Linked DNA regions of Homo sapiens. The protein of the gene in region 1 interacts with the protein of each later gene in a pairwise test. Each region holds a gene or a part of one and is shown on either strand. Other genes may lie near its edges. The genes, in order: SFXN1, TLCD4 and STOM.

Region 1 (3,500 bases):
TAGTTGTTCAAAAGGAGGTTGAATTTTTTTTCTAAATCTTAGCCCCAAAAGAGAATGAAGTGGAGAAGGAAAATAAAGAGTCTGCAGGCAAATTCTCCTTTGACTCCATTCATATAGATATAGGTATAGGTATAAGTGTAGATATAGGCACATTAAAGGTGTATGTGTAGACATAGACATATAGCATTGCAAGTGCTGTTAGGAGGGCCCAGGACCGCTTAGCCTACAAATTGTATCTTTTTTCCCCAAGAGAAGGGATCTGGCATTTATTGAATGTCTATTCTGTACCAGGCTCTCTACAAATTTTATCTTACTTCATCCTCATAGTAACCCTCTGAGCTTGGTGTTATCTATATCTACGGAATGAGGAAACTGATGATCCCAGAGGATAAAAGCTTGCCCAGCACACAGATCCTAAGCCTGTGTGGCCTTATGGCTTTCTCCCTTCCCCAGTACGTCTCCTCTCTGGTTACTGGTGTTCACGTTTTCTGTTCCATGCCGCGGCTGGGCCCAGTGATGGTGGGTATGTGACGGATGCCTCTGTTTTAGGACTACGCCGGCTGTGCTGTTCTGGCAGTGGATTAACCAGTCCTTCAATGCCGTCGTCAATTACACCAACAGAAGTGGAGACGCACCCCTCACTGTCAAGTAAGGCTACGAGAATTGACCACTCTCTGCAGTTCTTCAACCTTCATTTTATTAAGTGGTGATACTCTCCTGTTTAAAAAAGCCTATGTGTGCATATTTTTATATTGTTCAGAATATTATGTAGCATCCTTTTTTGTAGCTTTTTTCTTTTTTAAAGTAAAGTGTTTCATTTTCTCTCTCCCTATCAAGAAAACAGTCTTCTTCCAGCCTGCCTTCTCAGACATTACTCGTGCCTTTGGAGGTACTGGTAGGATGTTACCTCCTTCTCACCCTGGAGCTCATGGCCCTGTAGAACACATGGCAGGCAGCACCGGCCTGGCCTCTGATAAGTGACAGGCTGTTCCGCCATCTACCCTGCCTGAGTTGACAGACACCAACGTTAAGAGTAGAGGAGACAAAGTGTGGTCTCTGCAGAAATCAAGGGGAGACCATGGCGGTGTGAACTTTATATCTGATATGTTTTTAAAATAGCTCATCTGTGGAGTCCAAAAGAAAGCAATGAGTTTTAATTTTTTGTCACCTGTTAAAAAAAAAATAGGCTCACAAGATTAGTTAACCAAAAACGTTAGTTAGCATAATTGTATTACACTTGAAAGAAAAGTGCTTCTCTTTTTTATCACTTAAAATTGCTTTTGACAACACATATTCTTCTACTATTGTTATATGGAACAAAGGATCTTGAAATCTGCAGCCAAGTGGTGTTTATTGCAATTAAAATTTCTTTTAAAAGAAGAGAGAATTGCTTGGGCTTTATAGTTTTTGGATGATAAGACTTAGTATTTTTATACAGTTAAGATATCATTTTTTAAATGGCAGCACTTCATTTTTGCTTTCAGTGTGTATATTAATATTTTGAGAAATATTTTTAAGCAAATATGCCCCAAACATTTAGCCCAATATGCATTCCCCTGTATTCATAGCTTCCTACACACAGCTCCCCTCCTTCTCACGAATACAAAGTCTGTATGTTTATTTATTTATTTTAACCAACTCACTTCAAAGAATACATGTCTACTTTTTTGGAGTTATAGTCAAGATACGTGTGAAGAATCCCATTGTTTATGGATCTGCTTGCTTTTTCTCTAGATTCCCCTACTTGTGGAGTGATAGTGAATGTTGTTTTGTAGACTCTTCATTCTGAATCATGCTCTTTTATATTTCCCTTTTATTTCTTCAAATAATGTTGCACCAGAGTTTCCTGACATGCCCTCGTCGTCCACACGATATCCTTTTTTCTTTTCAGTGAGTTGGGAACAGCTTACGTTTCTGCAACAACTGGTGCCGTAGCAACAGCTCTAGGACTCAATGCATTGACCAAGGTACTCAGATTTTTATTTCCATAATAAAGCTGTTTAATTTGTTATCACCTGCCTGGCTCTAAATCCCTCTATTATTTCTTAAACTAGTTCAAGTCATATGGCTTTCTTGTTATAGTGCTTATCTTCAGCTGCATATTTTAGTTATATCTTCCAATAAGTTTGGGAAGAGTTGTCACCAGTAACACCTACCAGGACTGTGGTCTGTGCCTGACTCTGTGTACGAAGTGCTAAATGTTCACCCATCCTGACAGCCCACCAGAGGCATTGCAGAGGGCAGTGTGCCTCAGGCCACAGCTCTGAAGAGAGGCAAGAGCATCTCTCTCTCTCTCTCTCTCTCCCCACTCCAAAGCCCATACTCCTGCAACCACACTTAGCTACAAGGCCTTAGAAGCTTGCATGGTCCCAGCACACCCATGTGGGAAATATACAAATACTGCTAGGAAAAGTTTTGAAAGCATTCTTGGCCTGAGTTTCTATGCAAATGGGACTCTGCATTTTTCAGAGTTTTCAAGAAGAAATAAGTTATTTCCATTTACTAGTACAGGAAAAATAAGATAAAGCTCTTGAAATTTTCTCCTCTGCAGCATGTCTCACCACTGATAGGACGTTTTGTTCCCTTTGCTGCCGTAGCTGCTGCTAATTGCATTAATATTCCATTAATGAGGCAAAGGTAAGACGAATATGCACTCTTAGTAGGGACATGTGCTTGACAGGAGAGTCTCTTGTAATAATTAGCTTTGTTGAAACTTTCAAATGCTTGTTTTAATATGTATAGGTGAAATTATATGAGATCTTGGATTTCTTTTGAAATACTCTGGGGTTGGGGATGAGGATGGGCGTCTTGAGAAAACAAGCTTAGCGATGAGTTACTGATTATTGAAGCAGACTGAGGAGTGCGGGGAGGGGGCTGATGCTGGAATAGTCTTTCTATGTCCGTATAATAAAAAGTTTAAAAGATATATCTCAAGCTTACATTGAGTTGTGCTTGGGTTGGACAAAGTCTATCCAAAGAAAGTTTATTCTCTAAAATAGATTCCTTTTTTTTCTCCAGAATTTTCTTTTGGGGCTTAAAGTACATTATTCTATATCTTTGGAAGTATTGTTGTAGAACTGGCAAAAATTAAAGGAGAAGAAAGAACAACAAAAGCATTTTGGAATGGATAACGAAAAACAGGGGTAACGGTAGAAGTTATACTTAGTGTTAGTAAATATAGTTAATAAATATACAGTAGGGCCATGTGCGAGTGACTGTTTCCATGTCAGCATATTAAGTTTGTTGACTTAATAATGCTGTGTATTATATCTGTTTCTCATTTGGAAAGTTGCTCAAATTTGCACATGAGCATAGATTGAAGTTAGTGTGTCCACCCTTTGAATCATATTGTTCCTGAAAAAGGTACACCCTGTTTTAAAAGTTTACTAGTGTTGTTTTACTTTTATTTCTATCAAAGGAGGATTAAACTTATCCATGGTATTTAAAAATAGATGTGTCTGCTGGGCGCAGTGGCTCACACCTGTAATCTCAGCACTTTG
Region 2 (3,734 bases), on another chromosome or scaffold:
TATTTTATTTGTTTATTTATTTTTTTGAGACAGAGTCCCGTTCTGTCGCCCAGGCTGGAGTGCAGTGGTGAAATCTTGGCTCGCTGCAACCTCTGCCTCCCAGGTTCCAGTGATTCTCCTGCCTCAGCTTCCTGAGTAGCTGGGATTACAGGCATGCGCCACCATGCCAAGCTAATTTTTGTGTTTTTAGTAGAGACAGGGTTTCACTAGGTTGGCCAGGCTGGTCTTGAACTCCTGACCTCAGGTGATCCACCCACCTTGCCCTCCCAAAGTGCTGGGATTACAGGCATGAGCCACTGCACCCTGCCAGAGTTTTAAAAAGTTGGTTGCAATTTTTTTGTGTGTGTACAACTTATTAATCTCACAAGATTTCAAACACAAAATGGCTCTGATGACTTCTTCACGTGCTTTAGAGCATTTTATGTCCCCAAACATCACTGTGCATTTGTAAACCTCAGTGAGTCAGAGCAGCCGTGGCCTTATTTTTTGTTGTTGCTATTTAGTTGAAGTTAATACTAACCATAAAATGGATTCAGCAAGTCTCTAAAGTTTGCTATAATTATCTTTCATTGAAATTTCCTTTTAAAATTCAAGAAATTCTGTCAGTGTCTGAGTATTTATTTGAGAATGGTCATATTTGATTTGAAATTCCCTTTGAACCAAATTGTTTTGCAGGCATCTACTTTTATGATTCAGACTGTGAATTTAATAAGACTCTAGTTGTTTTTTTTTGTACTTTACAGTGATGTATCGGGTTCATACATGTCAAAGTTCTTTTCACCCAAAAAGCAAGAATTATTTCTCCACATATTTTCAAAAAATAAGCAGTATGATTATTTTGTCTTAAGACTAGCACAAAAATATTGTTCAAATGCATTATACTAGAGATACCATTACTTTAAAAAATCTTTTCTAACATATGAAGATAGATGGAATGGTAGGAAAGAGAAGGGGGTACATACGTTCTCTGATTAAATGTTGAACTATTTTCATTTCCTCTTTCCTGTGGTTAGGATAGGTAAAGGCATTTGAATGTTAGGTAGCTGCAAGTCAGAGAAATAGGAAAGGGTACAGAGAGATGGAAGCCAAGATGAAAATGAAATGAAATTGAAGAATATTTTGCATTATCTAGTCTTATCACTGCCATTCTATGACACAGGAAATACCATTTGGGAAACTGAATTTCTATTTGAAAAAGGAGTCTGGGATTATATAAAATTCATTTAGGTATTCAGTGGTGTTTTCTCTTTTTCTCAAGTTTGCTCCTGCTTCTCACTCCAGCTTTTTTTACAAAGGACTTAAGCTGTAAGGTGGAGAGTGCAAAGTAGGACAAGGAGGCTGTATTTTGAGTAAAATATGTATAAATGTCTTAAAATTCAGCTTCCAGTTTGAAACATACAGGTAAACACACATAATTCTTTCTAGTGATCAGGAAAGAGTCTCTAAACATGAGTTGAGAGTGGTCTGAGCCATCTAGTATAAAAAGAAATGGAGGAGAAAAAATCACTGGAAATGCCCATTTGAGAGACAACAGTTTAGTTAAAAGTGAGAAATTGTTGTACTGAATTGTTACTTTTTCTGAAAACGTGTATACTTACAGGTGCTACATCTTATAATGTAAAAAAATTTTCTTAATTACTTATATTCACTTTCTTACCTATCACATTGAAAGTCTTATTGTGTTGAAATACTACTAATTTTTAAATGTTTCTCTAAAATTTAGCTGAGTTATATAATTTCTGTTGGCAATATTTACACTACTTGTGATTAGTAACTTAAAATTGCTATTCTAAAATAGTCATTAATCATTTCCTTAGAGTGCTATCCCTTTATATGCACAAACATTTCTTTTCCACCCTCTTTGAAAAAAAATTGAAATATTTTATCTTGGGTAATATCTTGGAATTTCTTTTTAGATACTAAGGAATCTAAATTTTCCTTTGCTAGGAATCTGATTTTAAATAATAAAATATAAAATTTTTATTAACAGAAGTTTCTGAAACTATAGTATAGACTTTTAATACAGAATAGTGTATGAGTGAGGGCAGGGTATTTGTTTTTCCTCCTCATTACAGAGGGAGATATTTGATTGGACCAAGTAATATTTAACTTTTCTGTACTGAATCATACACCATTTCCATCAGCTGAGGGCTTAGAATGCTTTCCATTTACCACATAACATCTCAAAAGAGAAGTGAATCTGAGGCCTGAGTGTCAGAAATAAAAAGTTAGGTTTTTCAAAAGGGAGCTTTCTGACTATGGTTACCAAACAGTAAAACAAGTTTGTAAGAGAGATTATATATTTTTAAATTTTATATAATTTTTGAATAGCAATAGAGAGTGGGCTGTATGACCATTTAAATGGAGTATTTTATTTTATATCAAGGAATTTAATTTTTTTTTTTTTTTGAGACAGAGTGTCGCTCTGTTGCCCAGGCTGGAGTACAGTGGTGCAATCTCCACTCACTGAAACCTTTGCCTCCCAGGTTCAAGTGATTCTTGTGCCTCAGCCTCCCGAGTAGCTGGGATTACAGGTGTGTACCACCATACCCAGCTAATTTTTGTATTTTTGGTAGAGATGGAATTTCACCATGTTGACCAGGCTGGTCTCAAACTCCTGACCTCAGGTGACCCGCCCACCTTGGCCTCCCAAAGTGCTGGGATTACAGGTGTGAGCCACCATGCCCGGCCAAGGAATTTACATTTTTATCCTGTGCTCAAGGTGTGCTTGGCATGAAAATTATAGACTTGTAAACCAGATAAATTGGATTAATTATTCACATTTCAAAATGATTCTTAGGTATTATAAATGATACTTGGTCAATGCCTTTAAATTGGTGAGAATCTTTGCTTATTTAAAATATGGCTTGATTTAGCATGATACATCTATTTTGTAACACACTATTAGGTCAAGTATATTGGTTTCTAAAGTTACAATGAAATTTTCTGATACCAAACCTAATATTAGTTGATATATTTTACTTTTAAAGATTTGGGATCATATTGTAGAGAAAAATTTATTGCACACCAGTAATTTTTAGAGAGAAAACTTTGCTGTACCTCTCATTTTTTATCCTAATGAAGTTTCATTACTTGTGAACTTCTCAATAAAGATGTGAGAAATCTGAAATTGTTGGGTAAAAAAACTTTATTGTATGGATGAATACACAGTATCCTAAGTATAGTTCTCTAAGTAACATAGAGCTTGGGAATTAGTCACATCATTAAATTTATTAACAAGATATATTCATAGAAACTTATGGTTTTTATGTTAAACTTATTCCTTCTATACAAGAAAACTTGACCTGGATCTTGAGAACATTGTGCTTTCACTTGGGTATTTCTTTTAAAAACAAATTTTCCGTATACATTTATGGTCCTCAATTTTTCTATTTAGAAATGTTTTCATAATAATGATAAAGAGGGACTAATAATAGCTACCCTTGTTTTCTTACAAATTTGTTACAAGAATCAAGTGCAATAGTGCATGTCAACGTACTTTAAAAACTGAAGCCTCCCAAGATAATAAATCTTCATATCATGATCCATTCGAATTGTTTTAAGGATATGGAGTTTGTTAAAGCCAGTAGATCTGGAAGTCATTCCCAGCTGATTGGAGCAGGAAACTTATCCTGCATTGATGCTGTTGGGGCTGGAGCTTGGAGCCAAGGGTAGTGGCCTTGCCAGTTGCCATCTGGCTGCACAAAAGTCTGTCAGCTGCATCATCATGTATG
Region 3 (3,734 bases), on another chromosome or scaffold:
AATTCTCCTGCCTCAGCCTTCCCAGTAGCTGGGATTACAGGCACTCACCACAACGCCTAGCTAATTTTTGTATTTTTAGTAGAGACGGGGTTTTATCATGTTGATCAGGCTGGTCTTGAACTCTTGACCTCAAGTGATCCACCTGTCTCGGCCTCCCAAAGTGCTGGGATTACAGGCGTGAGCCACGACGCCCAGCCTCCACTTTCTTTTCGTCGATATTTTCTTACTATTACATCCTTCAGGAAACCCTCTGACAGCCACCTGAATCACCTCCCCGCCCCATTCCTTTCTCACCTCCATCCTAACTGCGTGAGTTAACTCATTCTGTGTCTTCAAAATATTCTGAACAGATACTCTATATCTGTACTTACCACCTAATATTATAATTATGTGTTTGTCTGACTTTCCCACTAAACTTTAACCCTGAAAGCTGGGATTGGGTCTTACTCATTGTTATCATTTCAGTACAAAGCAGAGGGCCTAATAAATAGTAGATGCTTAATAAATGTTTGCTGAATAAAGTAATGAGTAATGTGGAAATATACTTGTGTTATGACATCACATAGATAAGGGAAAGTAGTACTTACACTTCAGGGCTGTATGAGGATTAGATGGGGAAATTCATGTAAAACAGCTGGTGTAGTGCCAAGCACATAGGTATTCAGCGAATGGTAAGGATGAAGATGGTGGTGATTATGCTAGTAACAGTTGTGAGAGTTGTATATTTTTTGTTTTCAACAGACAGCCCCAGTAAGGGCCTTGGACCTTGCGGATGGATTTTGGTGGCGTTCTCATTCTTATTCACCGTTATAACTTTCCCAATCTCAATATGGATGTGCATAAAGGTAAAGAACATTTCATTCACTTCTGGGAAGGGGTCAACTCCTACCTCCATAAACCTACTTCGTGTGTGCCTGTGTGTATGTGAGAAAGAAACAGACTGTCTCTCTCTCTTATAATTCTTATTTCTTCATCTTTCTTTGGAAAATTTATTCTTCTACCCACCTATTAAAATGGAACCTTAAAACTTCTTTTCAGCCATTGCCCTTCCCCGTGGGCTAAAGTAAGTTTCACCATCAAAAATTTCCTGGGGCCAGGGATGTGAGATGGTTCTGAGAGAACAAGTTCTTCAGAGTTAGGATGATAGGGTTTGACTGCTGGCTTTACTGTTTATTGTGTGACCTTTGCTGTTTCCTCACCTGTAAAATGGGAGAAAGTAACAGTACCTACTTCATAGGAGTGTTGCGAGGATTAAATGAATTATGTGTCTAAATGTACTTATCACAATGCCTGGCACGTCATAAATACCCTCAGTGCTCGTTATTTTTTCTACAAAGTTGTTAATACTTTGATATATGACTATTATTTACATATTTCTAAGAAGATAAAATATGCTCCAAGCATTTTCAGATCAATTTATTCTTAAGGGAATCAGAAGAAAAACTGTGAAGACTTCAGCTTTTTGTGTTTCTGAATTAACAATGCATGAGTAATTTTTTTTTTTTTTTTTGAGCCAGAGCCTTGCTCTGTCGCCCAGGCTGGAGTGCAGTGGCGCGATCTCGGCTCACTGCAACCTCCGCCTCCCAGGTTCAAGCGATTCTTCTGCCTCAGCCTCCCGTGTAGCTGGGATTATTATTATTATTATTATTTTTTTTTTTTTTTTTTTGAGACGGAGTCACCTTGTGGCCCAGGCTGGAGTGCAGTGGTGCGATCTCGGTTCAAGTGATTCTCCTGTCTCATCCTCCCTTGTAGCTTGGATTATAGGCACCCACCACCATACCCGGATAATTTTTGTATTTTTAGTAGAAACAGGGTTTCACCATGTTGGCCAGGCTGGTCTTGAACTCCTAACCTCCGTGATCTGCCCACCTCGGCCTTCCAAAATGCTGAAATTACAGGCGTGAGCCACCGTGCCTGGCCTGCATGAGTAACTGAATAACAATGTTAACAGCTGAGGAGTGAGGTTATGGATTTGTTTCTGTATACTATTCTGTCCTTCCTAAATTTATACAGTGAATATCTATTGCTTTTGTAATCAGTAAGAAAATAATAAATAAGCTTTGAGAAGGTAAACATTGGACATGTGATTTATAGATATGATCTGGTTCTAAAGAAAAAAGATGAGGCATCTAATCTGTTTAGAGCAGAAATATATATTTAAGAAGCCATGCATGTATATATTTGTACTCTTCATGTTAAATTATTATTCATGTTTTTATTCTAGATTATAAAAGAGTATGAAAGAGCCATCATCTTTAGATTGGGTCGCATTTTACAAGGAGGAGCCAAAGGACCTGGTCAGTACTGGGATTCTAGATTGTTTATCTGAAAACTAAAGTTCTTTTTATTTTTTTTATTTTTAGGTAGTTGTTTTTTTAAAGACAGGGTTTCATTCCGTCGCCCAGGCTGGAGTACAGTGGCATGCTCATGTCTCACTGCAGCCTTGAACTCCTGACCTCAAGCAATCATCCCACCCCAGCTTCCCAAAGCACTAGGATTACAGACGTGAGCCACCGTGCCCAGTCTAAAATTTTTTTATTGACGTGATTTCCCTTATGAGGGCCTCTTCTACTCTGTCTTAGATAAGAGTTCATGTAGCAGGAGTTGTATAACAATAGCAGTGGTTCTAGCCAATCTTTTGTTACCCTTTCCTTCCTACCCTTCCCCTCCCCTTCCCATTTGAGCTGATAAGATTACCACCTAGGCCAAGAACAGTACAGCTATACAAGTTTGAGCATGAGAATCTCTACCAAAGAAAGACTTTCAGTCATTCATTTGGCAAACTTCAATTAAGCTCCTACTGTGTTCCAGGTTCTGGGAATTCAAGGGAGACTAAAACACAGTCCCTACCCTCAAGGATCTTCCTATCTAGTGGTAGGAACCAACAAGGAAACAGATAGCTACAATCCTATGTGATAAGTATTATGATCAAGTACTCACAGAGAGCTGTGAGAAAAGAGAAAACCAGAGAAGTGTTACTGATCTGAACTAGTCGTAGGCTGAGTCAAGGCTTTCTGGAAGTTACATCTTGACTGAGTCTTGAGGTCTGAAAAGGTGTTAACCAACAGGAGGTGTTTGCGGCGGAAATAGCAACATACACAAAGCAACAAAGAGGAGAGTATTGCAGATTCAAGAAACTGCAAGTAGATCAGTCCAGCAAGAGTGCAGGGTGTGAAGAGAGAGGAAGTGGCTGAAGAGGGGAACAAAGGCGGGTTATGCAGGACCATGCGTGGGGGAGGGTTTGTATTTTAGGGGGGATTGCTCGGCTTGCAGCTTAGGAAATAGATTATAGGAGAGAAACTACAAAAAATAGAAAGATGGCCTGGGAAACGATTGCATTGGTCCCAGTGGGGCGGTGGGGAGAAGAGTGATAGCAACAGTAGATTAAGGAAATGAACTCCACAGACCTTAGTGGAGACAGTCAAATGTGGGAAGTAAGCAAGAGGAATCAAAGTTATCATTCCTGGCTTCTGGCTCATTCACGAAGATGAACTGGTGACTTTTCAGTTCACTAGGTTGATTTTCTTAAAACTGAATGGAGAAGTGAACTGATTAGGTTGCTGGTGTCTGTATAATGTGTGTATCTTTGTTGCAGGTTTGTTTTTTATTCTGCCATGCACTGACAGCTTCATCAAAGTGGACATGAGAACTATTTCATTTGATATTCCTCCTCAGGAGGTAAGGTTTTCTTTGAATAACTGAGGTATCATATGTGAAAGTGCTTTACAATGAGG

What was found.
Region 2: the proteins of SFXN1 (region 1) and TLCD4 interact in binary tests that used the Homo sapiens proteins (3 or more experiments, as listed by UniProt).
Region 3: the proteins of SFXN1 (region 1) and STOM interact in binary tests that used the Homo sapiens proteins (3 or more experiments, as listed by UniProt).

The regions. Positions count from the first base shown.
Region 1 is NC_000005.10:175,509,560-175,513,059, forward strand, and holds part of SFXN1 (sideroflexin-1), read left to right. Parts: intron 1-549; coding exon 550-648; intron 649-1,891; coding exon 1,892-1,967; intron 1,968-2,551; coding exon 2,552-2,637; intron 2,638-3,500. UniProt on the Homo sapiens protein: Amino acid transporter importing serine, an essential substrate of the mitochondrial branch of the one-carbon pathway, into mitochondria.
Region 2 is NC_000001.11:95,144,683-95,148,416, forward strand, and holds part of TLCD4 (TLC domain-containing protein 4), read left to right. Parts: intron 1-3,734.
Region 3 is NC_000009.12:121,353,164-121,356,897, reverse strand, and holds part of STOM (stomatin), read left to right. Parts: intron 1-741; coding exon 742-845; intron 846-2,224; coding exon 2,225-2,297; intron 2,298-3,595; coding exon 3,596-3,678; intron 3,679-3,734. UniProt on the Homo sapiens protein: Regulates ion channel activity and transmembrane ion transport. Regulates ASIC2 and ASIC3 channel activity.